Linked DNA regions of Homo sapiens. The protein of the gene in region 3 purifies or fractionates together with the protein of the main gene of each other region. This does not show direct contact. Each region holds a gene or a part of one and is shown on either strand. Other genes may lie near its edges.

Region 1 (7,756 bases), on a different chromosome or scaffold from region 3:
GCCTCAAACTCCCAGGCTTAAGAGGTCCTCCTACCTCAGCCTTCCAAGTAGCTGGGATTGCAGATGTGTGCCACCATACCCAGCTAATTTTTAAAAATCTTTTGTAGAGAAAGGGTCTCACTATGTTGCCCAAGCTGGTCTTGAACTCCTGGGCTCAAGTGAGCCACTGTACCTGGCCCTGCCCCATATTATTCTTGTTTTTTGGTTTTGAGATGGAGTATTGCTCTGTCGCCCAGGCTGGAGTGCAGTGGCACGATCTTGGCTCACTGCAACCTCTGCCTCCCGAGTTCAAGCAATTCTCCTGCCTCAGCCTCCTGAGTAGCTGGGATTACAGGTGTGTACCACCACACCCAGCTGATTTTTGTATTTTTAGTAAAGACAGGGTATCACCATGTTGGCCAGGCTGGTCTTGAACTCCTGGCCTCAGATGATTCGTCCACCTCGGCCTCCCAAAGTGCTGGGATCATAGGTGTGAGCCACCGTGCCCAGCCCCCATATTATTATTATCAATTGAAAAACTCAAGGCTTTTCTTGATCTTGGGACATTGATGTTTAAATTAGTGCTAGAATTAATCTGTACTTCATGTTTGTTATTGTTAATATTATAAAATAAGGAGTTCTGACTTGTCTCCTGTTTTTTTCTCTAGAAAGAATGTTTTCACATTAATTAGGAGGTAACTTCATATCATTACAGAAAGCTTTTCTAAAATGCCTAATCCTGTCATAATTCTAATTCTATTTTGGCTAAATTTCATTTTTGTCTTGATGTTTTCCCTCTAGGCTGAAAATCTATTGTTAGATGCCGATATGAACATTAAAATAGCAGATTTCGGTTTTAGCAATGAATTTACTGTTGGCGGTAAACTCGACACGTTTTGTGGCAGTCCTCCATACGCAGCACCTGAGCTCTTCCAGGGCAAGAAATATGACGGGCCAGAAGTGGATGTGTGGAGTCTGGGGGTCATTTTATACACACTAGTCAGTGGCTCACTTCCCTTTGATGGGCAAAACCTAAAGGTATAAGAAGCTGCACCCATGTACTTCACTAAACTAAAAGAAGTTTCCTAATATTACATGGCTTAATATTTTTAACATTATATCAGTGCGGGGGGTTTCAGGGGGTTTTTTGTTGTGTTTTGTTAACTAAACCTAAAGGTTGACTTACTCGTTTTCTTTCCTCTGTACCTCTCCAAAGGAACTGAGAGAGAGAGTATTAAGAGGGAAATACAGAATTCCCTTCTACATGTCTACAGACTGTGAAAACCTTCTCAAACGTTTCCTGGTGCTAAATCCAATTAAACGCGGCACTCTAGAGGTAATCATGTAGGTGGAAACAAGCAGTAACTTTGGAGAGTCTTTAGAGTGACCTTAGATCTTTGCTTGATTTGTATGCCATACTGGATATATCCTGCGGCTTTTTAAGCAAGAATTGAAACATTAAAAAATATTTTTTGAGTTTATGCTTTGAACGATAGTCAATGAAATGTTGAAAATAAATTTTTGTAAATATTACGGTTATCAGAATATTTCATTTTACTCTGCTAATGAACAGTTTACCTTTTTTAGCAAATCATGAAGGACAGGTGGATCAATGCAGGGCATGAAGAAGATGAACTCAAACCATTTGTTGAACCAGAGCTAGACATCTCAGACCAAAAAAGAATAGGTAATCACTCCATGCCTGCATGTTCATGTGTTTTTGTCTAAGTAACATATTTCTGTTTTGACTCATGTCTGTGCCTAAAATGTGAATAATGGAAAGTTAAGCACAAGTCATATGAACAGTTTATCTGTTCTGTCATATTTAGGAACGTAACTACCTGCAGTTTCCTATAATGGCACCCAGTAACTCTGAAACAAGTGCCCATTTATGTTACAAAATATATGTAATATGTCATCTTTTAGGTCAAATGAAAATTATTTTACCCTACAAAAGAATGATTTCTGGCCGGGCGTGGTGGCTCACGCCTGTAATCCCAGCACTTTGGGAGGCCAAGGCGGGCAGATCACCTGAGGTCGGGAGGTCGAGGCCAGCCTGACCAACATGGAGAAACCCCATCTCTACTAAAACTACAAAATTAGCCAGGCACGGTGGCTCATGCCTGTAATCCCAGCTACTCGGGAGGCTGAGGCAGGAGAATTGCTTGAATCTGGGAGGTGGAGGTTGCGGTGAGCCAAGATCGCGCCATTGCACTCCAGCCTGGGCAACAAGAGTGAAACTCCGTCTCAAAAAAAAAAAAAAAAAAAAGGATGATTTCTTACCCAAACAAAACACATAAACTGTATTATGCCCTTCTTTTAGATATTATGGTGGGAATGGGATATTCACAAGAAGAAATTCAAGAATCTCTTAGTAAGATGAAATACGATGAAATCACAGCTACATATTTGTTATTGGGGAGAAAATCTTCAGAGGTAAGAGTAATCAGAAAGAGCTGAAATACCCTGTATGTAATTATTAGTTTATATAAACTGTTTTCTTAGTTTTTATCTTTTGAATATTTGTAACATTTGATACATCATTTTTTAGATTTACTTGCAAATAGCAAATCTAAATCCTATGACTATTATAAGCTATTTTAACTTAACCCTTAATGATGGATATTGGCCAGGCGTGGTGGCTCATGCCTGTAATCCCAGCACTTTGGGAGGCCAAGGCGGACAGATCACTTGAGACCAGGAGTTCGAGACCAGACTGGCCAACATAGGGAAACTCTGTCTCTGCTAAAACAAACAAACAAACAAAAAATTAGCTGGGCGTGTTGGCGCTTGCCTGTAATCCCTGCTCCTTGGGAGGCTGAGGCAAGAGAACTGCTTGACCCTGAGAGGCAGAGGTTGCGGTGAGCCAGGATCACGCCACTGCACTCCAGCCTGGGTGACAGAGCGAGACTCTGTCTCAAAAAAAAAAAAAAAAAAAAAAAGATGGATGTTGTCATAAACCTGGTCTTTCATAAATTAACCTGTAGTCATTAATAGCTTAGAAATGACGTAAAGCATCAGATGAAGTAAATACAACATTTAAAGTTATTTGAGAAAGCCTGGAAAGAAAATCATAAATACCTTACCTTTAGTGTCTTTCCAGCCGTCAGAAAACTACTTTTGCTTGAGTTTAGGGTTGTCATTTTTGTACGTTGTGATTCCTCCTCTCTCTGAATGAACGGTTTATGAGAGGTCTGTGTTAATGAAAAGTTTAACTTCCTAATAAGCCATTTGGGTTCGTGTTGTGGTTTGCTCTGTTTTTCTCATTTTCTCTTAGCTGGATGCTAGTGATTCCAGTTCTAGCAGCAATCTTTCACTTGCTAAGGTTAGGCCGAGCAGTGATCTCAACAACAGTACTGGCCAGTCTCCTCACCACAAAGTGCAGAGAAGTGTTTCTTCAAGCCAAAAGCAAAGACGCTACAGTGACCATGGTAAGTTTTGGAGTATCCCAGTGCCTTCTCTTAGAGTCCAGGCAAGAGGTCTCCTAGCACTGGGAAGCATTCTCTTGCTCAGAGCCTGGCTTGATGTCCTTTCTTGGCATTGCTTTCTTTCTTTCTTCTTTTTTTTTTTTTTTTTTTTTTTTTTTTGAGACAGAGTCTCACTCTGTTGCCCAGGCTGGAGTGGAGTGGCACAATTTTGGCTCACTGCAACCTCCACCTCCCAGGTTCAAGCGATTCTCCTGCCTCAGCCTCCTGAATAGCTGGGACTACAGGTGTGTACCACCATGCCTGGCTAAGTTTTGTATTTTTAGTAGAGACGGGGTTTCACCACATTTGGCCAGGCTGGTCTTCAGCTCCTGGCCTTAAGTGATCCACCTGCCTTGGCCTCCCAGAGCGCTGGAATTACAGGCATGAGCCACCGTGCCTGGCCAGCATTTTTTCTTAGTGTTCCTGCAGGTGCTGCCATGATTACATATTACTTCAAGGCTCTTATCTTCTTTATACATGCAGTAGATTTTTGCTGGATAAAGCTTAGTTGAGTGGAAACCTTACCATTTGCCCTTCTAGAACCTCTGCTTTAATCTGTAGTTTTCCTTTTTTTTTTTTTTTTTAAATGGAGATGGGGGTCTCGCTATGTTGCCCAAGCTGGTCTCAAACTCCCAAGTTCAAACTATTCTCTCACCACAGCGTTCTAAAGTGCTAGGATTACAGACGTGAGCCACCATGCCCAGCGCTAGAACTGGGCGCTGTACCGAACTGAATAGAACTGCTAGTCTGTAGTTCTATTCACTCTCTTCACCTCTGCATTGGATTTACTTTGTAGAGTAGCACTGTCCAGTAGAACTTTCTGAGATGATTACAGTTTTGTGTATCTGTGCTGTCCAGTCAAGAAGCTACTGGCCACTTGTGGCTATCAAGTACTTGAACTGAGGAAATGATTTTTACCTTTTTTATTTCTATTTATTTTTTATTATTTTTATTTATTTATTTATTTATTTATTTTTCAGATGGAATCTGGCTCTGTCGCCCAGGCTGGAATGCAGTGGCATGATCTTGGCTCACTGCAACCTCCACCTCCCAGGTCCCAGCAGTTCTCCTGCCTCAGCCTCCTGAGTAGCTGGGATTACAGGCATGCACAACCACACCCGGCTAATTTTTGTATTTTTAATAGAGACAGGGTTTCACCATATTGGCTAGGCTGGTCTTGAACTTGGGAGCTCAAGCAATCCACTCACCTTGGCCTCCAAAAGTGATGGGATTACAGGTGTGAGCCACCGCGCCTGGCCTTATTTATTTGTTTATTTTTTGAGATGGAATTTTGCTCTTGTTACCCAGGCTGGAGTGCAATGGCATGATCTCCGCTCACTGCAACCTCAGCCTCCGAAGTAGCTGGGACTATAGGCACACACCACCACACCTGGCCAATATTGTATTTTTAGTAGAGACGGGATTTCACCATGTTGGCCAGGCTGGTCTAGAACTCCTGACCTCAGGTGATCCACCCACCTTGGCCTCCCAAAGTGCTGGATTACACGTGTGAGTCTGTAATTGGCCTGGCTGATTTTTACCCTTTTAAAATTTTCCTGGCCGGACATGGTGGCTCATGCCTGTAATTCCAGCACCTTGGGAGGCCGAGGCGTGTGGATCACTAGGTCAGGAGTTCGAGACTAGCCTGACCAACGTGGTGAAACCCCATCTCTACTAAAAATAAAAAAATTACCTGGGCATGGTGGTGTGTGCCTGTAATTCCAGCTACTCAGGAGGCTGAGGTAGGAGAATCGCTTGAACCTGGGAGGCAGAGGTTGCAGTGAGCCAAGATCGTGTGACTGCACTCCAGCCTAGTGACAGAGTGAGAGTCCATCTCAAAAAAAAAAAAAAAAATTTGTACTTAAGTGTAATATATAGCCAGTTGTGGCCAGTAACTCTCATAATAGACAGGACAGCCCTGGAGAATATATGGAACCTCAGTTTTGCCTTAATTGGTTTAAATGTTGTACTGTGTCATTCTCATCCATACTCTTGCTGTTAGTGTGGTTAAGCCACTCTCCCTTTTAAACTTCACCTAGAAGCCAGTCCTTTATGAGACATAAGACTCCCAGTGGGTAGGCTTACCAGGCTCTACAGTTGCTCTGCCTTCAAGGCAGCCTGTGTGTCAGAGTCCTGAGGCTAGCGTGTGTGTTTACTTGCCCATAACTATAAATGTTAACATTGCAGATATTTCCTTTAATTCTACTATTCCAGGATTCAGGAACTAAATCTATTTTTTTTTTTTTTTTTGAGATGGAGTTTCACTCTTGTCACCCAGGCTGGAGTGCAATAGCGCGATCTCGGCTCACTGCAACCTCCGCCTCCTGGGTTCTAGCAATTCTCCTGCCTCAGCCTCCCGAGTAGCTGGGACTACAGGCATGCATCACCATGCCCAGCTAATTTTTTTATTTTTAGTAGAGACGGGGTTTCACCACATTTGGCCAGGCTGGTCCCGAACTCCTGAACTCAGGTGATCCATCCACCTCAGCCTCCCAAAGTGCTCGGATTACAGGCATGAGTCACTGCGCTCGGCCTCATTTTATTTCTCTTCTCTGGACATTTTCCATCTTAATACTTTCATCTTGAGATTTGACACTTAGGACTGCACAGGGCATTTTAGGTGTGGACAGCTTTGATTTTGTACTAAAAATGATTACACTTGGCTTGATTTCCATTTCTCTTCCTTCTGTTGCTTGCCTTTCTACATGGTTTAGACTGAAGCAACAGTGTACTAATATCACTAGTAAACCATCTACAGTGCCTGCTATTCTAGGGTGTAACTGAGAGCTCAGAACTCATTCTCACATCAGGATTTGTGCTCCTAGCATTTGTAGGTGACGTGTTGATCTAGGTCTGCCTTTTTTGTGTTCATGTTAGTCACTAACAAGGGGGGTTTCTAGTGCTTATGGACCACATGGCAATTAAATGCCCATATATTGCCCTGAAACCATCTGGTTTAACTTGTCCCTCAATCCTAGAAGAAACCTGACAATGGGATTTTCACATTTCTCTAAGGAATATGTTAGTAAGTTATTCCTTAAGCACATAGATTCCATCCAGATTATTAGTGCCTTTTTCCCCCCAGCTCAATTTTAGAGATAAAAAGAGCTTTAGACATGGTATTGTACACTCACCAAACCTCTGTTTTATCCCTAAATAGACCAAGAGAGATTACCAAGTCTCCCAAGGTTACATAGTAAATGAGAAACACCTGGGGCAGAGCTCAGGCCTGCTGGTCCAAGCCCTGTGTTTTTTCTCCACTGAAGCACCTCATTGGAGTAGCTTTTTCATAATCCTCATCTTTCTTGGAATTTCTGAAGGCAGGCAAGCCTGTATAGCCGGGCTAACTTTCACCTCATCCTCCTGCCTCGTCTCACCTCTCCCTTCCCTTTTCCTTGCCTGTGGATGCTGACCTCTGCATGGGTGCCTGCTTCTCTAAAGCTACGATGTAATCTGTAGCTGTCCTTCCTCGTTTGAGACCCACATGTGAACACCCCATATGTGTGCACTTTTTCTGCGAATGGTGATCATCTGATTTTCAAGGGGTTAGCTTGTTTTTTAAAAAATGAAAAAAAAAATCACTGTTTACTAATCAATGAGTGGTATTGGGGCAATTTGGTAGTTCTCAGAAAAAAAATTAATTTGGATCAATTTCTCACATCTTATACAAGGATGAATTCTAATTGGAGTTAAGATACAAATATAGGGCTGGGCGCAGTGGCTCATGCCTGTAATCCCAGCACTTTGGGAGTCCGAGGCAGGTGGATCACGAGGTCAGGAGATCGAGACCATCCTGGCTAACATGGTGAAACCCTGTCTCTACTAAAAAATAGAAAAAATTAGCCAGGCGTGGTGGTGGGCACCTATAGTCCCAGCTACTCAGGAGGCTGAGGCAGGAGAATGGATGAACCCGGGAGGCGGAGCTTGCAGTGAGCCGAGATCGAGCCACTGCACTCCAGCCTGGGCGACAGAGCGAGACTCCGTCTCAAAAAAAAAAAAAAAAAAGATGTAAATAAAACTCCAGAAATATTGAAAGAAACCTTGGGATTATTTGCTTTGTAACTTGGACTGGTGAAGGTGTTTCTGTCACCCCAAACACCAAACCCATGAAATAAAAGACTTACAAATTTGATTACATAAAAATGAAATTTCTGGCCGGTCGCATAATCCCAGCACTTTGGGAGGCCGAGGTGGGCGGATCACGAGGTCAGGAGATCGAGAACATCCTGGCTAACACGGTGAAACCCTGTGTCTACTAAAAATACAAAAACAAAATCAGCTGAGCTTGGTGTCAAGTGCCTGTAGTCCTA
Region 2 (7,756 bases), on a different chromosome or scaffold from region 3:
AATGCACAGGACAGCCACTGCAAAAAAGAGTCATCAGGCCAAAATGTTGCTAGTGCCAAAGTTGAGAAACGCTGGCAAAGAAAACGAGGAAGCATGTTGGAGTGCCAAGGACACTGGATCGAGAGTCAAGGGCTTTGCAACCTTGTGAAGGGCCGTGTGACCTTGAGAAAGTCATTTCTCTTCTTCTGGTCTGAGACATTGAGAAGGTTGTCAAGGGCTGTGCAACCTTGAGAAAGTCATTTCCCTTCCTCTGGTCTGAGACATTGAGAAGGTTGAACTAAATGGCAGACTGAATCCAGCAGTGGTATGTATCGTTCTAAGATAAAATTTGACTTTTATAAGGCTGCCTCTTTGGATGTAAGAATAGGTCTAGTCAAAAGGGGGCCTGGCTTCTGCCCTGTCTCCTTCTCCTTCTGTATCTTAATCCCTCCCTTCCTTCCATCTGCAAATGGTTACTGAACATCTACAATGTGCCAGGCATTGTCAGAGGGAGATAGAGGGCTAGAAATGCAAAGCGGTAAATGTGGATGCTCCCTCTGGAGCTTTCGGTCTAGTAGGAGGGAGAGACAACTAACAAACAGATCTAGCCTGTCAGGCAAAACACTGGGAACGACGCCTAATGCTATAATTCACCCAAAAGGAAGGTAAGTAAATATTTGCTCCTAAAAGACAGCCTGAACAGAAATGTCAGGAAAGATGGAATAGAGATCCCTCCAAGGCAAAGGCACTTGGTTTAGCAGGCAGGCTAGGGTAGTAATCAGAGGTTTGATGTCAGCACCAAGTCCATGGTCATGGCAGAGCCCCGGCCCTTGGCACCTTGTTTATGTTGATGTGCAGAGGAGGCCAGGGTCCAGCAGCCTTCACAGTTTCCAGTTCCAGCTTCTTTAGATGGGCAGCGGCTTCACTGAACAAGGCAGGTGTTCCTGGACTCAGTTCTACAAAGCAGCCAGGAGAAATAAATAAGGAAAGGTTGAAAGGACAGATAGATACAGGGGAAAAGGGACACTTGCCAGCGCCCGATTCCCAGCACCCTTTCTGCCGGCCTCCTCCTCCAGCAGCTCTCATGCCTTCAGTATGCATCAGCTGATAGGGTGTGAGAATATCTGAGGTCAAGGTTTCAAGGCTTAACTGTCCCACACATGAGCTGGACGCCCCTGGGTACGTTGTTTTGCCTCTCTGACCCTCTGAGCCATTTAAAAATGAAAATAAAATTACTTACCTTGCAGGGTTGCTGTGAATATCCAATGAAGTCATTTATGTATAAATGCTTTAAAAATGGAAAAGCATTATGCAAATTGGAAAGATTAGTGTTCAGGCAAACAGGCATATAACGTGCCCTTAAAAGCCATGTTATGTTCCTAAAATCAAATCCATTGATTTTTATTTCTGTGCTACTTTGGATTCATTTGCCACTACTTCTCCTTCCAGCTTGAATTTACTCATTAATACATTAAATATTCATTAAATATTAAATATTCATTACATATTAAAACTTGTGCCAAGTATCGTTAGCAACTGGGATCTGGGAGCTGAAAGAAAGAGGTGAATGAGACAAAATTTTAATCTAATGGGGATGACGGACACATGTGGAGATATTCCGAAGAAGACTGAGAAAAGGTTTATTTAATTGCTAAAGGAGCAGGACGGAACTGAGGATGGGTGTTAGAGAACATTTCACTGACAAGCGAACATTTGAATGGGCTGCTAAGGGATGTGTAGGAGTTCAACAAGGTGGGGAAAAGTATTCCAGGCAAAGGGAACAGCAGGTGCAAAGGACAGAGTTGAGACCCAGTAGAGTATTTTGTAAGAAGAGAGTAGTTCTGTGTAGCTAGAGTATGGTGAGGAGTGGAGGGAAGAATGAAGACCTTGGCAGGGGTCAGGATACGCAAGGTCTGTGTATGGCCCTGCTCAGAAGCGAGGACTTTATCCCAGACAGTGAAGAGCTAATGAAAGGTCTTATGGCATGTGGTCAGAGTTATGTGGTGAGAACTATGACTTTGGCAGCTACTATTTGGAGATTGTCCTGGAGCGGGTGCCCCTTAGGAGGCTGTTATGGTTATTTAGATATACAAAGATGAGGCAGGGACTAGGGCATGGGCAGTGTGGATAGTGATGAGGGACAGAGTTCGGATTCTTCAATACCAAGTGGGTGTCGAGTTTCCATTTCCAGCTCAGCTGACACAGAGTTGTTCCCTGTGGCCCCAAGGTGAAGGTTGGATGGCCCATCCTGTCTCAACAGCTCACAGACTCACACAATATCAGAGCTGGAAGATTCCTTGGTCATCATCTCAATACCCTCTACCCTATTTCATGGATGAGAAAATAGAAGATCAAAGAGGGAACTCAGTTCAAGGGTAAGAGCTAGAATCGAAGCCTCCACTTCAGTACTTTTCTTTTCTTTTCTTTTCTTTTTTGAGACAGAGTCTCACTCTGTCGCCCAGGCTGGAGTGCGGTGGCACCATCTCGGCTCACTGCAACCTCCACCTCCCAGGTTCAAGTGATTCTCGTGCCTCGGCCTCCCAAGTAGCCAGGATTATAGGTGCACGCCACCAGGCCCAGCTAATTTTTGTATTTTCAGTAGAGACAGGGTTTCACCACGTTGGCCAGGTTGGTCTCGAACTCTTGACCTAGGCGATCCACCCATCTCGGCCTCCCAAAGTGCTGGGATTACAAGCATAATTACAACCTCTGCCTCCAAGTTTCAAGCGATTCTCCTGCCTCAACCTCCTGAGTAGCTGAGATTATAGGCACGTACCACTGCGTCCAGCCCTCAGTACTTTTCAAACCACATTTGATAAACAACAGGTTCTTTTCATACCAAAGATGAATTCTTTGGTAACGTATAATAAAAGTGAGTTTCTAGAAAAATAAAATAACGGACATGCCGAATCAAAGCCCATATTTTTATTAGATTTAAAAGATATAAACTCATTCTATCATATTGCTAACAATATTTCTGGGCTGGGTATGGTGGCTCATGCCTATAATCCCAGAACTTTGGGAGGCTGAAGCAGGAGTGTTGCTTAAGCCCAAGAGTTCAAGACCATCCTGGGCAACATGGCAAGACCCTGTCATAAAATAAAATAATAAAATTTCTAATTGCTCACTCTCTATTTTTGTAACTTCTCTTTCTGGGACCCATAACAGTAGACAGATTGGATCTACCTGACACCACTTTGCTCTCCCAAGTGGAATGTCAAAAATGGGATAGAATGAGTTTTTCTATGATGAAGAAAGTAGAAAGTCCAGCCATCACTCCCCTCCCCTCTTTCTCTTTTCCATTGCTCAAGCCAGTGCTGGGTACCACAGAGGCAGAGAACTGTTAAGAAAGGAGGTGGAGGCGGGGCACTGTGGCTCACGCCTGTAATCCCAGCACTTTGGGATTTTTTTCGTCCAGCTCTTTTGTAAGGCACTAATCTATTCATAAGAGTGGAACTCTCATGACTTAATCACTTTTCAAAAGCCTTCACTTCTTGACCGGGCATGGTGGCTCACGCCTGTAATCCTAGCACTTTGGGAGGCCGAGATGTGTGGATCACCTGAAGTCAGGAGTTTGAGACCAGCCTGGCCAACATAGTCAAAATCTGTCTCTACTAAAAATACAAAAATTAGTTGGGTGTGGTGGCACATGCCTATAATCTCAGCTACTCGGGAGGCTGAGGCAGGAGAATTGCTCGGACCTGGGAGGGGGAGGGTGCAATGAGCCGAGATCATGCCACTGCACTCCAGCCTGGGTGACAGAGCCAGACTCCAGACTCCATCTCAAAAAAAAAAAAAAAGAAAAGAAAAAAAGAAAGGAGGTGGAGAACTGTGACCCTATAATGAAATTAGAGTTTACTGGTAAACCATAATCCCTAAAGTGCTTCTGCTCAAATGCATAAGGCTCTTGTCTACTCTGGCCCAAACCCGGTAGCCCAGCATAACATGACAACCATTGTGTGCTGCACCGCAAGGGTCTGTCTTAAGAATCTAGGGAACTCTCGTGCCCTGCAGCATTGCTCCCCCTTCTCCTGCCTTGCCCCCTCCACCCCTACTCACTTGTAAGGGACTTGCTGCTGGAGTTTGGGGACCTCAGAGGCCCCTCTTTGTTCTCCAGGGTCAGTGAGAGGCTGTAGTTTGAGTGGTGCTGGTGCTGATGCTGATGCTGGTGCTGGTGGTGATGCCTTCCTGAAGCTGCGGTGAGGAACGGTGTGCCCCCATTCTCCTCAATGCCAAAAGGCAACCGGTCCGAGCTGCTAAGCACTGGGGAAGGGAGCGGGTAGCTGTGGAGGGTGACACAGTCAGGATTTAGAAAAGCAGAATGCCTTGCAAGCCCTCTGTGTACTTTCAAAGACGTTTTCTAGGCATTAAACACTGAAAGAAATAAACTCAAAAACTAGATCTGTAGTTATTATAAAGTATATACAATGGTAATATTATACTTAAGAAAAAGAGCAAAGTGGAAGTTTGTATATATCAGAGACTTTAAGTCTTGTAACTTAAAGAAGTATTTGAAATTAAATGAAATAATATTTATTTCTTTTTTTTAAAGGCATTCTCTAAATGAGAGGAAGAGGTAAAAACAATAATAAAAAATCATTTGTAAATAATCCTATGACAAGATCATAATGCAAACTAGAAGTCTTGGGGTCAGTTTCTCTTCCTCTCTGTCACCCACAACATGCAGAAAGCTCCAGTTAACATCAGTGCTGCAACATCTTTTTCTTGAGACAGGGTCTTGCTGTGTTGCCCAGGCTGGAGTGCAGTGGTGCAAACACAGCTCACTGTGGCCTCAAGCTCCCAGGCTCAAGTGATTCTCCCACCTCAGCCTCCCAGGCAACTGGGGCCACAGGGATATGACACCATGCCTGGCTAATTTTTAAAATTTTTTGTAGAGACAGGATCTCGCTATGTTGCCTGGGCTGGTCTCAAACTCCTGGGCTCAAGTGGTCCACCCTCCTGGGCTTCCCAAAATGCTGGGATTACAGGTGTAAGCCACTGTGCCCAGCTTACAACATCTTTTAATTCCAGTGGACCACCTCCTTTTAAAAAAAAAACAAAAAACAACTAGGATTGCCCCATTTGAAGGCCGTGTCATCTCCCACCTAGACTCTTGTAACAGATTCCTGCTGGCTCTCCCCGTCTCTGCTCGTTCCTTTAGTCCATCCTCCACAGAGTAATTGCCAGAGTGCTATTCTAATTACATTCCAGACCATGCTCTCCTTCTTCAAGGAGCTTGAATATATCTCTAATACTAATAATTCTTTTTTTTTTTTTTTTTTTGGCAGTGTCTCACTCTGTTGCCCAGGTTGGAATACAGTGGCACTATCTCAGCTCACTGCAACCTCCACCTCCCAGGCTCAAGCAATTCTCATGCCTCAGCCTCCTGAGTAGCTGGGATTACAGGTGCACACCACCATGCCTGGCTAGTTTTTGTATTTTTAGTAGAGATGGGGTTTCACCATGTTGGCCAAGCTGGTTTCAAACCCCTGACCTCAAGTGACCTGCCTGCCTCAGCCTCCGAAAGTGCTGGGATTACAGGCATGAACCACCGCACCCAGCCTAACACTAATAATTCTTAACCACTTTAAGACAGAAACCCCTTTGAAAATCTGGTGAATACCACGAACCTTCCCTGTACCAACAAACAACATTCTACACACAATATCAGGCCCTCTAGAGCCTCTCCATGGACCCAGGTGAAGAGCCCTGGCTTGAAGGATAAAAGCCACAATCCTTTATGTGGCACTGACAGCACCTCCCCCCGCCCCCAGTCTTGGCCCTTTCTCTTTTCAGCCTCATCTCCTGCTACATCCTTCTACTTCCCACCCTAACTCCTTCCCATCCCGATGCCTCTTACTTCTTGGTGCCTCCTGAAGTCCTTCCTCATCTGTCAACCCAGTGAAAATACCCCTTCTTCCAGGAAGACTTCCAGCCTTTAAGACCCAGATAAAGATCCCTTCCTCTTATTCCCTGGCAGGGCTAACCCCTTTTTCTGCTCATTCCCATGGTTCAGATCTCTACTGCCCACTCTTTCACTCTGTCTTCAAGGAACTCACACTCCAGAGTAGGAAGCTCTGTGATTCAGTCACTTACAATCATACTAGAACAAACTGCTAAGAAAATGCAGAAGTGGAAGCAATCAGTTCTCCTGGGGGAAGGTGTTTGTAAGGGAAAGAGCATTCGGGGGAAGACAGTTAGGTTTTGCTGGACAGTTCTTGAAACAGAATCTTCTTTCTTATAGGAAACCCCATTCCTTGTGTTTGTATGGGATTGACATTTCCTCCTCAGGGGTGGGCCTGAGACTTGAGCCTGGCCAATCAGAGTCCTGCATCCTTCTAATGAGAGTGTTCTGGAATGTCATCCAATTAGGGACAATCAGAGTTTTTCCTAAGATTTAACACATGAAAACTGAAAGGAAGGCTCTCTCTTTCTTTGTAACAGGCAAGCAGGGCCTTATTGTGCCTTTTTGTGCCACAAGCACTTTTGCCTTTGTCCATTTTCTTTCCTTTTTTTGAGATGGAGTCTCGCTCTGTCGCCCAGGCTAGAGTGCAGTGGCGCGATCTCAGCTCACTGCAAACTCCGCCTCCCGGGTTCACGCCATTCTCCTGCTTCAGCCTCCTGAGTAGCTGGGACTACATGCACCTGCCACCACTCCTGGCTATTGGTTTGTATTTTTAATAGAGATGGGGTTTCACCGTGTTAGCCAGGACGGTCTCGATCTCCTGACCTTGTGATCCACCCGCCTCCCAAAGTGCTGGGATTACAGGCGTGAGCCACCGTGCCTGGCCACCTTTGTCCATTTTCTATAAAAATTAACTAAAAATTAAATTTCACAACTGCATAAAAGTAAATATGTTAATAACATATACTAAAACATTTTCTTCAACGGAAAATCCATTTTTTTCTTATTTTAAAAAATATTTAAAACCTTTTCGTGGGCCCCTGAAAGTATTGTGAGTCTAAGTATTGTGTGCCTACTGTGTGTAATGGGTAAGCTGGCTCCGGCTGTAAGGATGATGGAAGTTAGGGCTCTTTGTGAACATCTTTTTTGGACACAGAGAAGTAGTCCCTGTGAGACTGAGGCCAATGCACAAAGAAAGACAAGATGAGCAGAGGTTAGAGGTAGTCAGAGAGAGAAGAAACTTAATGGTATCATTTTAGCTCCTGGTTCCAGCCACACCTGAAGCTGGCATTACCACTGAACTTTTCCATTATAAGCTCCAGTAAATGCCTTTATTTATTTATTGCTTGAAGTACTTGGGTTTTTCCAATTAATAACCCACATGCTTGAAATCAGAGGAGGTGTGTTATTTTGTCATTTGTGTGTGTAGAATTTCTTTTCAGTGGAAAAGGTAGAAACAGCTGTTCCAGGCCTAAGGAATAGCATGAGCAAAGGAACGGTGGTTGAAAGAGCAGGATGTCTGGAGAAGTGAGGAGGAAAGTAGCAGGAAGGGAGACTAAGACAGGCTGGGGCTAGTTATGAAGGGCTTAGAGTGCCTGGTTATCAAGGAAAGGGCTTAAGCAAGGGAGTTAGATTTTGGAGAGTTTGTTTTGAGCGCTGTGTGGAGGAGACTGGTTGGGGAGAGACTCCAGTATCTCTCTGTTAGGAGACTGCCGCAGGGCGGGATCTAGACTAACCTGGTGGATGGAGTGAGGTGAACTGCCTTCTGGGATATTTTGAAGCTGTGTAAGCAGGGCTTGCAGACCTGTCACTTGGGGACATTGGGAGGAGGTGTCATTGAGGACTGTGTTGCAGATGCAGGAGACAGTCCAG
Region 3 (7,756 bases):
AGTGTTAATTTCCTGATTTTGAAAATTCTATCTCTCTATATCTATCTATCTATCTATCATCTATCTATATCTCTCTATATCTATCTATTTATCTATCTATCTATCTATCTATCTATCTATCATCTATCTATGTATCTATGTAGCTAGAAGGGATGGTAAAATGTTAACATTTGGGAGATCTAGGTGAAGAGATATTGAAGTTCTTTGCACTATTTTGGTACATCTGAAATTATTTTAGGGTAAAAAGCAAAAACAATTTAAAAAATACTATTTTAAAGCACTATTATATCTTTTTGCTATTACTATTTTAAAATACATTAATAAGACTCTTTTTTTTTTGAGACAGGGTCTCACTCTGTTGCCCAGGCTGGAGTGCAGTGGTGCAATCACAGCTAACTGCAACTTCTGCCTCCCAGATGAAAGTGATTCTCTTATATCAGCCTCCAGAGTAGGTGGGACTACAGGCGCCTGCCACCATACTCGGCTAATTTTTGTATTTTTTGGTAGGAATGGGGTTTCACCATGTTGGCCAGGCTGGTCTCGAACTCCTGACGTCAAGTGATCTGCCCACCTTGGCCTCCCAAAGTGCTGAGATTACAGGCATGAGTCACTATGCCTAGCGATAAGACCCTTTTAATATCTTTGAAAGGTTTAAATGTTAGGAAAGTTTGTTTCTATTGTGCTGAGTTGTTATTAAATAGTCCGCTCCTCTGGACTGGATTATTTACCCTTTGGTATCTTGTGAAATGTTTGCTCTACCTTCAAACATCCAAGTAAGTTACAGACCAGTAAAACAGTGTCAAGTTGCTCCCTGGTTCTGTTCATCCATCACTTCAAAGAATTAAACAGATAAATACTTCCGTGTTAATTCCTTTCTCCTCCTTCCCAGCCCTCACACCAAATGGCCCCTTGTGGGGACATAGTCACTCTGGGGAGGCATTCTGCAGAGAACACCAGGTTTGGCTCCAGATGGCTTATATTTAAGTTCCAAGAACTAATGGTTTTTAGTTATGTGTCTTTTAGTGATTAATCTGTATGAGCGTCAGTTTCTGACTATGTCAAACGGGGCTAAAATAGTATTTGGTTTTTGTTTGTTTGTTTGGGGAGACAGAGTCTTGCTGTGTTGCCCAGGCTGGAGTGCAGTGGCATTATCATGTCTCACTGAAGTCTCAAGCTGCTGTGCTCAAACAATCCTCCCACCTCAACTTCCCAAGGAGCTGGGACTACAGGCGTGCCCCACTATGCCCGACTAATTAATAATACTTGTTCTACATCACTTTCTAGAGCTATTGGAAGATCCAAATAAAAAGATGCATGAAATGCTTTGAAAAATGCTCCACAGCCTTTGTTATTTATGAACTTCTGTACATAAGGTGTGGGTTGGGGGTTTATCTCCAAGGCCCTCTATCTAACACTGTTTGAGCTGCCTGACATATTATCCATGACACAAACCTAGAAGACAAGTTGGCTCAGCTGCTTGCCAGTGCCTTCAGTTGATATTTTTAAAAAACAGCTACCATATAGTGAACTCTTCATATTCATCCTTATAAAAAGTCCCAATTTTAGATGAGGAAATTTAGACAGCTCAGAAAGGCCACAGGACTTGACATAGTACACAAAGCTACTAGGTGGCAGATTCTGGACTTGAACCCTAGTCTCTATTACTTTATAGCCTGAGTTCCTTCCACTGTGTTACTGTGTGGCTCTGATGATCAATGAACAGAAGCTATAGTCACTGCAGGAAATTAACTAAGAGCAATTTTGCCTAGTGAGTAGTACCAAAGAGGCTTGGATTGATCCATGGAGAACTGTGTTTTAATTGAGCATGAAGTTGTCCATGTTTTTGTTTTGTTTTGTTTCATTTTTTTGAAACAGTGTCTCACTCTGTTGCCCAGGCTGGAGCGCAGTGCCAGGATCACAGCTCATTGCAGACTTGACCTCCCAGGCTCAAGTAATCCTCCTGCCTCAGCCTCCCAAGTAGCTGGAACTCCAGGCACATGCGACCATGCTCGGTTACTTTTTGCATTTTTTTGTAGAGACAGGGTTTTGCTATGTTGCCCAGGCTGCTCTCAGACACCTGAACTCAAGTGATCCCTGGCCCCGGCCTCCCAGAGTGCTGGGATTACAGTTCTGAGCCGTCGTACCCAATCTGTCCATGTTTCAAATACTCATCTAGACATCCACCTCAGCCAAATAAACTTGGTTTGAGTTTGGGGACTTAATCTAAGAAGCACTCCTCTTTGGGACTATACTCATCTCTACAAGGCAAAGAGAGTTTGCCTCTTTCTTACCCATGTTTCAAACATTTCTTCTGGGCGCAGGCGACGTAGAGTGGGTCTGGAAAAAAAAAAAAAAAAAAAAAAAGAAAGAGCTTCCTTGAGTAGGGATCACTGTGGCAGACACAGCAGCCACAGCATTATGAAATGTAAAATGAGATGATGCTTCCTTTGCAAGGCAGGGAGAGCCCTAAAAACCCACTTATCTTCTAAGGAAACAGACCTGCTCTACTCTGCTGTGTCAGACAGCGAGCTGGGCCAAGGCACTCAGCCTTTTCATAGACCCACTGATCCAAGAATTATAAAGTCTTTTACAAACAATGGGTCAGAGGGCACAGGGTCAGCTCATTCCCAGGGCAAGATGCCATTTCCTTCCTCACAGATAGCCACCACTCCAGAGAGCCCACAGCAGGCCTGGAATGAGAAACCTGAGGGGGAAAACAGGAAATCTCGGATTTTGTAGGTTAAAACTGCCTTTGTTTTATCATCTGGTGTATACATTGAAAGTCCTTTAGGGATATTTAGGGGAGCAGACAGGATCTATATTTTGCTCATAGTTTCATTTCTTTCTGAATATTGGCAAATAGTGCTGGACATATTAATATTTGCTCCTCCAAGTACTGCCTTCCTGAAGGAACTAGGACTGTCCAGGTGAGGGGGATCACAGTACTGCAGGTCCAATGAACACACTCGTGTACATGCCAGGTAGGGTGGAGGGACAAGCCAGTGAGTCCACTACCATGTTCCATATTCCCATATCTTCCCTCCCTCAAGAGCAGGGGTCAAAAAACTACAGCTGGTGGGACAAATCCAGCCAGGGCCTCCTGTTTTCCTAAATAAACTTTTACTGGTACACAGCCACACCCATTTGTTTATACATGATCCATGGCTGCTTTCATGCCACAGCCGCAGTTAAGTAGTTGCTACAGACGCCATCTGGCCCACAGAACCTGAAATATTTACCATTTTGTTCTTTACAGAAAAAGTTTGCTGATCCATGCTGGAGCTACACTAAGTGGTATCAAGCATTTCTCTCCCAGAAGTTCTATGCATAGAGTGTTCATCCTTGGCTAAGTTACTTAACTATTGAGTCCAATTCCTTGATCTGTAAAATTGGGATAATAATAATTACTCCCTAAGGTTGGAGATTAGATAAAATAGTTTCCCTAAAGCACTGGGCATGGTTATTGGTATATGGGAACTTTCACTAAATTGCTCTCATTCCTAGTATAGAATTTTATTTATATCTTGCCCTGGCTTTGAGGGGATTTGCTGACTGAGGGATTTATCAAACTCTGCTTGCAGGTGCAGACTTAGATTCAGAAGTAATAACATCCCTGCTAGTCATTACTGATCAACAAAGCCATACTACTGAGTTCTGTACTGCTGGGGTACTAACTAGGTTGTTGCTCTTGGCAGGTCTGAAATGTTAGCACAGAGAGGCTCCTCTCCATTCCCCAGACCCCAGGCCCCCAGCCCCCACATGCCATCTCAGGCACCTTTGGTGTTCCTTCACAAACTCCACCAGCTCCTCTTCTGTGTAAGGTTTGTTGGGGATGGCAATGGGCTCATCCATAAATGGCTCATAGAAGTCAACCTCATTCATCTTCAAAGATAATTTCTTTGCAACCTGTAACCATTAGAAATAAGACAAAGTTTATTTGAATACTAGTCTAGAATAGCAGTGTGTTGTCCATCTAAGATAAGTGTGTATGTTTTCCGGCAAAGACATAAAAACAGATGTACAGTTTTAACTTCAATGTTGAAGTGACAGGAACTTATCACCCAAGGCCTGGCTAGACTAATCTTCTTTTGTGATCAAAGAAGGAAAGATAGGAAGGAAAAAGACTTATCTAGCAAATGAGGGTCGGGCAGGGGCAGGGAGCAGTTGAGATGCGAAGTGGGAAATTTAATTCTACAATCACCATCACTCTACTGCATTTGCCAGGGCTGGATGGGAAGCAAATGCCAATGGAGCATATTTACTATCCTGTGTTGTATGGATTTAATGGAACCAATGTTGATAAAACAGGCAATTGATGGAGATCCTTAAGGCATATAGGTACTCAGAATCAGAACCCAACCCATTAGCCTGTCTTTGATCTGCTCATAGCCCTAATTGCTTTTTAGGTTGAAGTGCTGGCCCTACAGTTAAATCTCTCAGTACCCAACTTGCTTCATGGTTTGTCAGGCTTTGGGAGCTGCCCAGTTTGTCAGCAGTTATGAGGTGACTGACCATCTTGCTTTGTTCTGGGTGGAAGGGCTCCCTGGGATGCAGGACTTTCAGTACTGAAACTTGGACAGACCCCAGTAAGCCAGGATGATTTGCTCATCTTACAACAGATAAAGAGCTCGGAGAGCCAGCCGATAGCCAGGAAGACATTTTCTCTCTGGATTAAAGCAGCCACATGTTCAGTGTGTTGTCAAGGCAGAATGGTTGCTGTTTGCCTGCACAGCTGCTGAACTCAGGACCTCTGTTTGTGAAATGATTTCAGAGGCCTGGAATGTGCAACGCTCTATAGAAAACCAAATGCCACTCTTTTCTAGTTCAGAGCTGTGGTTCAAGAAAGCGCAGGGATGAACAGTGGTTCCCTTTAAGCTGAAGAGGAATTGCCTAAGAGCTGATGCACTGTGGTGGTAACCCGTGGTGCCGTGACCCAGGGCGGCTGCAACTAACTGGGGAAGGGGAGGAGCTGGGTATTGCATAAGCTCTTACACAAGGAGATCCATTCTGAGGAAACATTGATATCCATATGGTTTTTGTCATCAATTGCTATGAATTCCAGGTCACTATATTCTGAAAGGCATTTCATATAGTACTTAAGGGAGAGAAATTCCAGCATCCTACTCAGAGATCAAGAAAACAGGCCATGTTGACAGCTATAGTCAGTCAAGGGAGATTTTATTGTCAGGTTAATTTTAAGAGAGGGAGATGTGGAGTTTTTTCTAACTGTTTTTCCCTCTTCTCAGGGGTAGGGGGGTGATGTAGATGATGAGGTGATGAGGCAGGGAGCCAGAGTGGGCAAGAAAATGACATTGAATTCTGGTTTTCTGAGTTCACTTACTATGTATTCTAGGAACCAGAAGACTGTTTCCATGAAAGGAGAAGTGATCAGAATGAAAACAGTAATAATAACAAACATATGGAGTGCTTATCACGTGCCAGGCACTGCTGCCAGGTGTTTTAGGTTGATTCTTTGTTTAATTCTCACTTTGATTGTATGTGGTAAGAATGATTATCATAGTTATTTTACAAATGATGAACCTGAGGCACAATTTGGGTAAGAAATTTGTCAGGATCATATATCTGGAGGGAGCAGAGCCAGAAGTCAAACCCGCCTGGTGGTGGTGATAGTCTCGTCTCTGAATGCCAATGTCTGGGTCCACAGTGCTGTCTAAGAATGTAAAAATTGGATTGTCGTGTCCTTAATTTAAGTCTTGGAAATGCTAAGTAAAAATTTCCCAGGGATCTCTTCACTGTCTACCTACCACCATCATGGAGTGCTCTCATCTTGTATCTCAGAGAATCCCTCTCTTTCATTCTTTTTTTTTTTTTTTTTTTTTTTTTTTTGGTGAGACAGAGTTTTGCTCTTGTTGCCCAGGCTGGGGTTCAATGGCACAGTCTCGGCTCACTGCAATCTCCGCTTCCCAGGTTCGAGCGATTCTCCTGCCTCAGCCTCCCGAGTAGCTGGGATTATGGGCACAGGCCACCACACCCAGCTAATTTTTGTATTTTTAGTAGAGATGGGGTTTCGCCATGTTGGCCAGGCTGGTCTTGAACTACTGACCTCAGGTGATCCACCTCCCCCCTCGGCCTCCCAAAGTGCTGGGATTACAGGCGTGAGCCACTGCGCCCGACCCCCTCTTTCATTCTTATTATTCCTATCTTGGATGGTAAGGACTGAAGGGATTTGATTGGTTGAAGCTTTTATTCATTCATTTATTCAGTAAGTATTTAGTGGGGCCTACTGAACCCAAGGCATTATTCCAGGAGGAGATCTGGTTCATGGGTATTAGCATTATATAAGAATGAATTATATTATTAAGAACCAAATGGGTCCATAAAAATGAATTCTTTCATGCTTTTATCTGTTAACTAGTTGGAATAGATTTCAACAAAGATAAGAAAACTACAAAGTACAATGCCAATTTTCTGACATGTGCATGTATATGAATTTTGATACAAATCATTTTTCCTCCAGTTAGCAAGTCATTTTAGTTGTTGCCAATGAAACCAACTCAAGTATTAGGTTGGTGCAAAAGTAATCGCAGTTTTTGCCAAAAGTAATGGTTTTTGCCATTACTAAATTTAGGTCTTCCCAACATCTATCTTCTCCACTAACTTTGTTTAGTCACAGCACCCTTTGGCTCCAGTGTGATTTAAAAAAGAAAGTGATTTTTCGTCTCATTGTTCACTCAGACAGAGAGAGGAACAGGTCAGTGGGCGGGGACATGGGATTTTAAGAACTGATATTTTTCAGGCTGTGAGGTGCAGCAGAGTGGAACCATCCTTGGCCCTCTGACACTTTCTTGTTCTAACTGCTTCTTCAGAGAGGTTGGGCCTTCGTGTGGCTTGATTTAGGATTAGTATTAATAGATCAGTACTGGTCCTAAACCTCCACACCCTTTAAAATTCCTTGGGTGGCTTTTGAAAATGCAGATTCCCAGACACTGCCACAACCCTAAAAAATTAAAATTTCCAGGGCTGGGGCCCAGAGACCAATGGTTTTAAAAGCTTGTTGGAGGATACTAATATGGATAGTGGTTGGGAACTACTGACTGACAAATTTACATCAGCAGCCATGACATCTCACCCTCTTTACAGTCTTGCAACTCATATGATGTATTTATTGGTTTGTTTACTTTTGAACTTTCTGTCTTTCCATCTTCTCTTTCCCACAATAAACTTTAAATTCTAAAGGGCAGGAATCTGCTTTGCTCAATGTTGTGTCCCTGGCACTAAGAAGAGTGCCTGGCACATAAAGGGCACTCAATAAATACTTGTTGAGTGAATGACTGAATTAATTAATTAATTAATTAAGGACATTTCCAGTTGAATGTTTCCCCAACTTTTAGAAAATAGAACTCATAACCCCATCTCTTGTTCCTCAATAGATTCTTCTTCCTGGATTTCCTAATGTTTTCAGTAGCTTCATAATTTTTGCTGTCTTAACGCCAAGACTTGCTATCTTAAGTTATTTTGAGGCCTTCTCTCATCATCTCATCAATGGCCAGATCTTCTTGTTATATCCACTTTTACTAGTGCCAGTTGTTTTTTGCATTTTTGTGACCGCATTAGTGCTTTCTTGTCCCTTGCCTCTCCTGGTTTCAGACCTCAACAAAGCACCTCCAGGTCCCTCTGAGATTCCCTAGGATGTGTTGTACAAACAGGTCCTTTCAGCCACTTCACATTTATTACTTTTCTCCTCTTCTGTCCTAGCACTCCCTGCTGGAAACCACTGAGGCTCTACCAGGTGCAG
Region 4 (7,756 bases), on a different chromosome or scaffold from region 3:
ATCTATAGTAATGTTTGTTTTGTTTATACAGAATTTATCCCACATCTAACTATATTTCTCTATGAAAATTCCTAAACTTGTTTTCAAGTGGTAGAGAAAGTGTTAGAAAAAAATCTAATGCAGATGAGATTTCAATCAAATTACTTGTAATGGGCATATTAACTGGGTTAACAAGGTAAACGACACATGGATAACATAACACAAAGTGATTTTCCTCCAAATTTGGCATCTTATCTTTCAAGTACATGAACCCAACAATTAGTGTCATTTGTGAGAAAGTTTAGAGGGAACACAAAGTATGTATGATCCAAAAAGCAAGCAACTGCTGGGCACAGTGGCTCATGCCTTTAATCTCAGCACTTCGGGAGGCCAAGGCAGGAGGGTCGCTTGAACCCAGGAGTTCAAGACAAGCCTAGACAACATAGTGAGACTTCATCTCTACAAAAAAAAAAAAAATAATAACAGGCATGGTGGCGCTTGCCTGTAGTCCTAGCTGCATGGGAGGCTGAGGCAGGAGAATTACTTGTGCCCCAGAGGTCAGGGCTGCAGTGAGCCATGACTGCATCACTGCACTACAGCCAGGGTGACAGAGCAAGACCTTGTCTCAAAAAAAATTAATTAAATTAACAAAAAACAAGAAACTTTAAATATTTCTATTACAAATAAATACCAGTAAACATCTGAAATAATCTGCTGTCAAAAGAATCCCTTTTTAAACACTAAATGATCACTGTTCAGTTTAAAAGTATAGCTATACCTCTGGATTTTAGAAAAGGGGTTCATTCAACAAATCTTCATTATTTGATTTTACAAAGTATATTAAAATATTTGACATATTTCATTTACCTGGTTATGAAGCATAGGTCATAAAACATAAAAATTTAAAAGGAAATCCAATTTAAATGTTATACCATCGGCTGGGCACAGTGGTTCACGCCTATAATCTCAGCACTTTGGGAGGCCAACGCGGTCAGATCACTTGAGGTCAGGAGTTCGAGACTAGCCTGGCCAACATGGTAAAAACCCTGTCTCTACTAAAAATATAAAAATTAGTCTGGAATAGTTGTGCATGCCTGTTGTCCCAGCTACTCAGAGGGCTGAGGCCTGAGAATCTCTTGAACCCAGGAGGTGGAGGTTTCAGTGAGCTGAGATCGTGCCACTGCACTCCAACCTGGGTGACAGAGCAAAGCTCCCTCTCAAAAAACAAAAAACAAAAAACAAACAAAAAAAAAGTTGTACCATCAAAGTTATCCAAGAAAAGCAAGTTAAATCATATGACCATTCTTATACTAAGTTTATTAATTTACACTTGCAAAAGAATGAAAGAAATGAAATTTCTGATTCCATTAAAAACTTCTTCCTCCCAACTTTTTATAACTAAAAACTTAAACCACACAAAGAGCCTAGGATGTGACTTTTTAATGACCCAAATGCCTTGAGTTAAGGATAATAATCCACTTTGGGATCCAGAAACAGAGTATTCATGCACTTTACAAGATTATACCTTATTTCATCTTCAGAGAATATTATTCCACCCAACCAGATATAGCAGCCCATCTGGAAAGGAAATTTATTACATGTTGCTTCCCTAACATGCTATGGCCAGCCACTTTCAGAAGCCAGAAGATTGTACTTCAAATTCATATTCCAAAGAGTGATCTCTTGATCAGCGGCATCGGCACCACTTGAGAGCTTGTTAGAAATGTAAAATCTAAGGTTCCCCTCCAGACATACTGTTAACGTGGTTTTCCTGTATTATTTCAGAATATGAAATTCTATTATAGAGGTAAACAAAACTAATGGGATGGATGAAACACTTAAGAAGTGATAATCATAGATGGTAAATAAACTAACAACTTATGAGACAGAGGCAACACTCAGGCTGGGCCAAGTATTGATAATGAGAATGCAAGCTGGTGAAATGAAGGCAGTCAGCAGATGCGTAATAAATAGGTAAGCTGGGAGTAAGACATGACAACAATAAAATAAATAGAAATTATGATAAAATGAATGAGATTTACTTATAGACAAAAAGCAGTGGAAATACCAAGTCACCATTATGCCTGGACTGATAGCTACATTACTTCCATATCAGTCATCTACTGAAGACACCAAGGATGGTCCCATGGCTCATCAGCAGGCAAACTAGCAAAGCTACGGCTGTACCTAAGTGTATTTGTCACATCTCTTCAACAGAACAAGTGTGTATCATCGACCCAGGAAATCATTAGTCTATGGAGTCTTGGCTCAAACATCAGCTCTGGTCCTCATAACCACATCATTAATGGGGAAGGGTTATGTGAAAGAAAGATGGGACATAGGAACATTGTTTATCCAGGACAGGTAGCGTGGTCCTTCCAACCTGGTTTGAACCTGAAGTGTGTTAACTTACTCCATAGCTTTCCTCTTGCTTCTGGATTTGTGTTTAACTGGTTTGGTAAATCATGTGATTCAAGCATTTTAATTTGTTTTCTGAGTCTTCTATTCCATAACCTCTGAGATAGCTTGCCTGCTGGTGTACTTGTAGCTCAACCATTGTATCAAGGTAATTTCCCATAGAATACCTACTGAATCAGAATCTTGATGCTAACAAGATCTCCCAAGTGATTCATATGCATATTAAAGTTTAAGAAGCACTGACAAAACTGTTATAAAGGAAGCCTCCGCAAAGACAAAAAGTTGGATCTCAACAGAACTATTCCCTGAAAACCATCCTGAACAAAAAAACTTCATATATCCATGAATGCCCTAACTATGACTCGGAGCCCCCAAAAAGGGAGAGAATACAAGAAGATCCATTTTCAACAACTATCATGTAAGGTTTGAAGAAGCTCTGGTGCCCTTGCTGATTATTTGAATTCTAATCCTGTAAAGCTCCATATGATTTGAGAAAACACAAAATATAGCACAATGTACCTCAATATTAACTCTGCAATATCCTTCTTACTGTGAGTTAGAAAAATCTTTTTCAGATATGCTGTTTCAAGAATAACAATCCATTGTAACACAATAGTATTTGAGGGGAAAAAAAAATACCAATCCAAAGGACATAAGAAACAGAGAAAGGTTGTGACTTCCTTAATGAGGCTGCAGCAACCTTAGAAAGATCATCAAAGCACAGAGTTGGGAACAGCCTGAGAGCTTCCTTAATGGGCTGTACACGTCCCACCGACCAGCAGCTCCTTACTTCATCAGCTCCTCATTTTATGTATTTGTTGTATTTGTTATATTTGCATTGTCCCTGACACATATTAGGGGCTCCATAAATGTTCTGAATTAGTAGAAAAAAATGACATGTCACCCTCTCTTGTTTTGATTCATCTAAGACAAATTTACTTTAATTCAATCCTTTCATTTTGAAAAATTCCTGAAAATGAAGGCATAATTCCATCTCGAATTAGCATGGTCCATAACATTCTCCCATGCCATATCTCAAAGTTGGATTTTAATTTGCTATTATTAATCCCATTCTAATATTTCATGACCCTATGAAACATAACAATCTATCTAATAAGAAATAACTGTCTGTGAAAGATAGGAAAGTCATACTAACTGATGGCTGGCAATACAGTCTGACCATTTTTAAAAATCAAGGTATATGTACAAGTACAAGGTATATGCTACACAGGAAAGATCAACTATTATTCTGATGTTTTTCTAAGTCCAGATTTAAGACATCTTATGGAAATATCTATGTAAAACATCTATAAAAAGAACTGAAGTAGTCACTGAGGACAATATTACACATACAAAGATGATAAATAAGATCTATAACAAAAAACTAAAGGTGCTAGGAATTTTTAACCTAGTACAGAATAAAGTGACAGCCAGGAAAAGAATGTAAAAGTTCTAAAAATCATTTATTTAAAGAATACATTCCCTGTTGCTTCTTTAAGAGGAAGTATGTTTAAGCTTCAAAGGAAAAGACTGAGGTTAGGAATTGCAACTTCCCATTCCATAAATAAAGTTTTATGAAAAGAATAAAGAAACACAGATAGAAAATGGTTGCATGTATTCCTTTCCAAATAATCTATCAAATCCCTTTCACTATATGCATTTAGTACAACCAAGTGCCACTAAAGGACTCACAGGACATTAAAAATTTTGGCATAGTTTTTTATACTGTTTTTTATGGATTTTAAATACAATGTGTTTAAGAATTGACTCTACAAACTCACAGAGGAAAGGGGTAACCTTACAGATTTTTGTGTCTTCTTCAGCTAACAGCATGAGAGAACACACATGATAAGCCTTCAATAAATACTTTAATTGGATCTAATAAGGTATTACCACCCTCTGCAGCAAAAAAAATCTTAATTGGAGAATAACCTAAACACTATGGCCACCACCATGACCAGTAGAAAGCAGCTCTCAAATTTTCCAAGTGAATCCACTTGCATATTTAACAATGGAAGCAGCAAGAAAGAGTAATTGTGTTATTCATTACAAAGGGCTAAGAATGAATCTTCTGTTTGCAAACTTAATCCACTCCAAGAAGTCCTGTTAACTGCCCAATCAAATGCAATACATTATCTTTGTTTCACAAGTCTTATGCTTGATCTAATTTGTTTTAGAAATCTTATTCTTGATGAAATGCATTAAATGTAGGTAATGTTTCATTATTTGCTAGATAAAATTGTCATTATATGAAAATTAAGAGGCAAAATACTTATTGTTATAAGCAATCATAGCACAAATTAGTTGAACTTCAAAATATCATTCCCAAAAAGCTGGTTTGTTCACATATAAACAGACACATTTCAATGATAAATCCTTTAAAATCCATTAAACCAACTAGTGCACAGTTATGTTTTGTGCAGCACAGGACCCAAATACAGGCTGGTGTCCCACTTGGTTGACTGGGTAGTGGTCTACTTGATAAATTTTCATAAGCTGCTATCCCTTGTATTAAAAAGTTAGTCACTGGGTTTAACAACTCCTTGAAGAGTTCATTTCAGTTATTCCTGCCTTTCTCAATGTGAAACGATTTAATCTTATTGCTTTCTTCCTAAAGGGTAGAAAGATGATGTTCAAGGGGGATGCGAATGGCAAAGTTTAGGAGCTCACTGGATAGGCTTGGGGGAAAGGCACCTTTAAAGACCATCTAGAGTAGGGCAGTGGGGGTTGGGGAGGAATAGGAAGGCAGGAGGAGATAATCACAAAGGAAGGTGGTAAAGCACTGCAAAGAAACTTACTTTCAAACTGAATTGACATCTGTAGTTTATTTTAAACTACAGTTTAACTTAACATGACCCATTCTGACCCAGAACTTCTGCCTTACACTAATAAAATGAAAGTCTGCCTGCTAACATCTGTAAATAATTTCATAGATTATTACTTTATTTCAGAATAGTATTTCATAATCAGAACAATGTCAGATTTCTCTTTAAATATTTCTATGTAAATTTATATTTTAGAGCCTTATATGGAAGGTCCCAAAATGAAAATAACAGACAGTGATTTTAGATTTTGAGGAGAAAATTTACAGGAATATATCAAATTCCAAGTCTATCATATATACACACTGTGTAAGCTAGAAGCCCCTAGAATGTGGTCTAAAACTACACATTCTGCCACCATAACCTTCCAGATTCCCCAAGGAGAGCATGCCAGCATCTCAGGACTGAGCTGTGGGCAAGTACACTTTGAAAAAGCACCCCAGGAGATTCTGGTACTCAACCAACCACCTCCTGCCCCTATTGCCATTATCCACTAATAACATTCTACCACCCACTGCTGATGTACTTTGTGCTATTCTTCCATACCAAATGTTAACTAAGTGAAGTCATTAGAGCATGTGAATTCCATTGGCATTTATCCAGTTTTTAAGAGGTAAAAATAAATCCATGAATGGCAAATCAATGTTATTTCTTTCAAAAAATTCATTTTAAAGCTATGTAACAAATTTTGAACTCAGACTGTTTACAGTCAAAGCTTTTCAAAGTATTTAAGTCAGCTAATATATTTCCATAAATTAAATTTTCACCACCAACTAGCAGTACCCCCCAAAAAAAGTTCCAACAAAATTCCTCACAATCCACTTACACTTAATAACTCAGATTTTTTTAAGAAAGTAAATCGAATATTATTCCCAGATTACCAAAACTCTCCCATTGTACATTATACTTCATACCTTAAAGTGTGTACATTCAGAAAATATTATTTATGAATAATTTTAGGTAAAACTAAAGTAATTACATTTCAAACTAACACTCCTGGTTTTCAGTACTCACAATACTCATACTCCAGTTCATTGGAACGTATCTCACAATTCCCGAACTTCTTCAGCTTTAATATTACTCACTATTGATGTATGCCATTATAAAGCACATTTAAGAAATGTAATTGATATCTCTCAAACTCTGAACTTTTAAAATCACCTGACAACAGGTGATTTTAAAGGTATCAACAATCTTGAATCCCTTACAAAAACTCCTACTAGTTGTCAAGTCTATTCTACATACAATTAGGCCCTAGTACTAAAAACAAATTTAGAAAACAAAATGGAGAAAACACACTTACCTTAATAGGAGCACTACTAAACTTAATTTTCCTATTTGCTGGGATTTCTTCTTCTTCTGGCAATCCAACAATTTCCGAGTACTCCATATCAGGCTGATAGTAACTGTTCTCATCACTATCTTCCTCCTCATCCTGCTCAGTGCCTGTCTCTCCCCAGTCTGAATTATACCTGGATCTCACCCTATACACATTATAGTCACTGTGCATGTACACATGGGAACCATCAAAATTATTTGAATCTTCAGGTACTTCTTTTCCACAACTGGATGCAGAAGCATCAGGAGAGGTGAAATCACCACCTGCAAGTTCTTTCCTCTGTTGCTTTGCTGCCTCCCTTCCAACCAAATTAGCTTCAGCATCTTCTAACAGTTGGCTTTGTGGTGAAGGGATTTCGGACTTTGGCATTGCCTTACTTTCAGCACAAGGTTCTTCAGGACCATCTTTGTCAATGCTGTCGGGAGTCTGTTGATTAGATGTGGAGTCCTCGGGTTCCTTGCTCTGCTGGATCTCTTCACCAGGTATCGAAGCTAGAGAGGTACTTTTAGAAGCCACTTCTGGTACTGGAGTTGCATTACTCTTGTGAGCATCCTCTGTATCAACACCTCGCTTGTTTGAAGGAGGCCAGGAATTAGAATCCTTCAGGTGACCAAATGTGTCAAGATTTGTAACAGTAACAGATGGTAAATTCAAGGGATAATGCCCAGTCACTGAGTATTCATTGTTTTCAGCCTTCTCAGAAATGATGGCACTGGGAGAATCAGTGTTCTCAAATACTGCACTCAGTTGACTCACAGTTGGGGAGACAGCCTCAGTTCGGGAGCTAAGGCTGTCCAAGGAATCAGTACTGCCTCTGTTGGACTTGGAACCTCCCCATTCATCCTGAGGTTCACTCCCTCCAGCTTTCTCTTTCTTTGGGGAATAGCGGTTGTTCTGTCCTGATTCATGCACACTTCTCTCAAACATCTTTCGAGTCTCAGTGAACTTGGAATATGAAGGGCCATCGTACATAGTGTCAAATCTACTAATTCGTTCAGAAACAGAAGACTCCAACTTAACAACTGAGCCATCTGTTTTTTCCAGAAATTCTTTGGGCTTCATTCTTCTCTGAGGAGATGAATGTCCACCTTTCCCCCTTGTTTTGGCAATGACTGCAGCATTCTCGTTGGGTTCCATACCCATCTGCATAAATAGGTTTTTAATTCTGTTGACATTGGAGCCATATTTCCTCCCCCTG

The links.
Region 1: the proteins of CASQ2 (region 3) and MARK3 purify together in Homo sapiens (affinity purification with mass spectrometry; 3 studies listed by BioGRID and IntAct, with this or other methods). This does not show direct contact.
Region 2: the proteins of CASQ2 (region 3) and EPB41L4B purify together in Homo sapiens (affinity purification with mass spectrometry; 3 studies listed by BioGRID and IntAct, with this or other methods). This does not show direct contact.
Region 4: the proteins of CASQ2 (region 3) and PPP1R9A purify together in Homo sapiens (affinity purification with mass spectrometry; 3 studies listed by BioGRID and IntAct, with this or other methods). This does not show direct contact.

What each region holds. Positions count from the first base shown.
Region 1 is NC_000014.9:103,464,777-103,472,532, forward strand, and holds part of MARK3 (MAP/microtubule affinity-regulating kinase 3), read left to right. Parts: intron 1-780; coding exon 781-1,017; intron 1,018-1,195; coding exon 1,196-1,315; intron 1,316-1,566; coding exon 1,567-1,666; intron 1,667-2,302; coding exon 2,303-2,415; intron 2,416-3,256; coding exon 3,257-3,410; intron 3,411-7,756. UniProt on the Homo sapiens protein: Serine/threonine-protein kinase. Involved in the specific phosphorylation of microtubule-associated proteins for MAP2 and MAP4. Phosphorylates the microtubule-associated protein MAPT/TAU. Phosphorylates CDC25C on 'Ser-216'.
Region 2 is NC_000009.12:109,212,884-109,220,639, forward strand, and holds part of EPB41L4B (band 4.1-like protein 4B), read right to left. Parts: intron 4,263-7,756; coding exon 4,039-4,262; intron 936-4,038; coding exon 817-935; intron 1-816. UniProt on the Homo sapiens protein: Up-regulates the activity of the Rho guanine nucleotide exchange factor ARHGEF18. Involved in the regulation of the circumferential actomyosin belt in epithelial cells.
Region 3 is NC_000001.11:115,723,217-115,730,972, forward strand, and holds part of CASQ2 (calsequestrin-2 precursor), read right to left. Parts: intron 3,907-7,756; coding exon 3,776-3,906; intron 2,338-3,775; coding exon 2,292-2,337; intron 1-2,291. UniProt on the Homo sapiens protein: Calsequestrin is a high-capacity, moderate affinity, calcium-binding protein and thus acts as an internal calcium store in muscle. Calcium ions are bound by clusters of acidic residues at the protein surface, especially at the interface between subunits.
Region 4 is NC_000007.14:94,910,275-94,918,030, reverse strand, and holds part of PPP1R9A (neurabin-1), read right to left. Parts: coding exon 6,523-7,756; intron 1-6,522. UniProt on the Homo sapiens protein: Binds to actin filaments (F-actin) and shows cross-linking activity. Binds along the sides of the F-actin. May be involved in neurite formation. Inhibits protein phosphatase 1-alpha activity.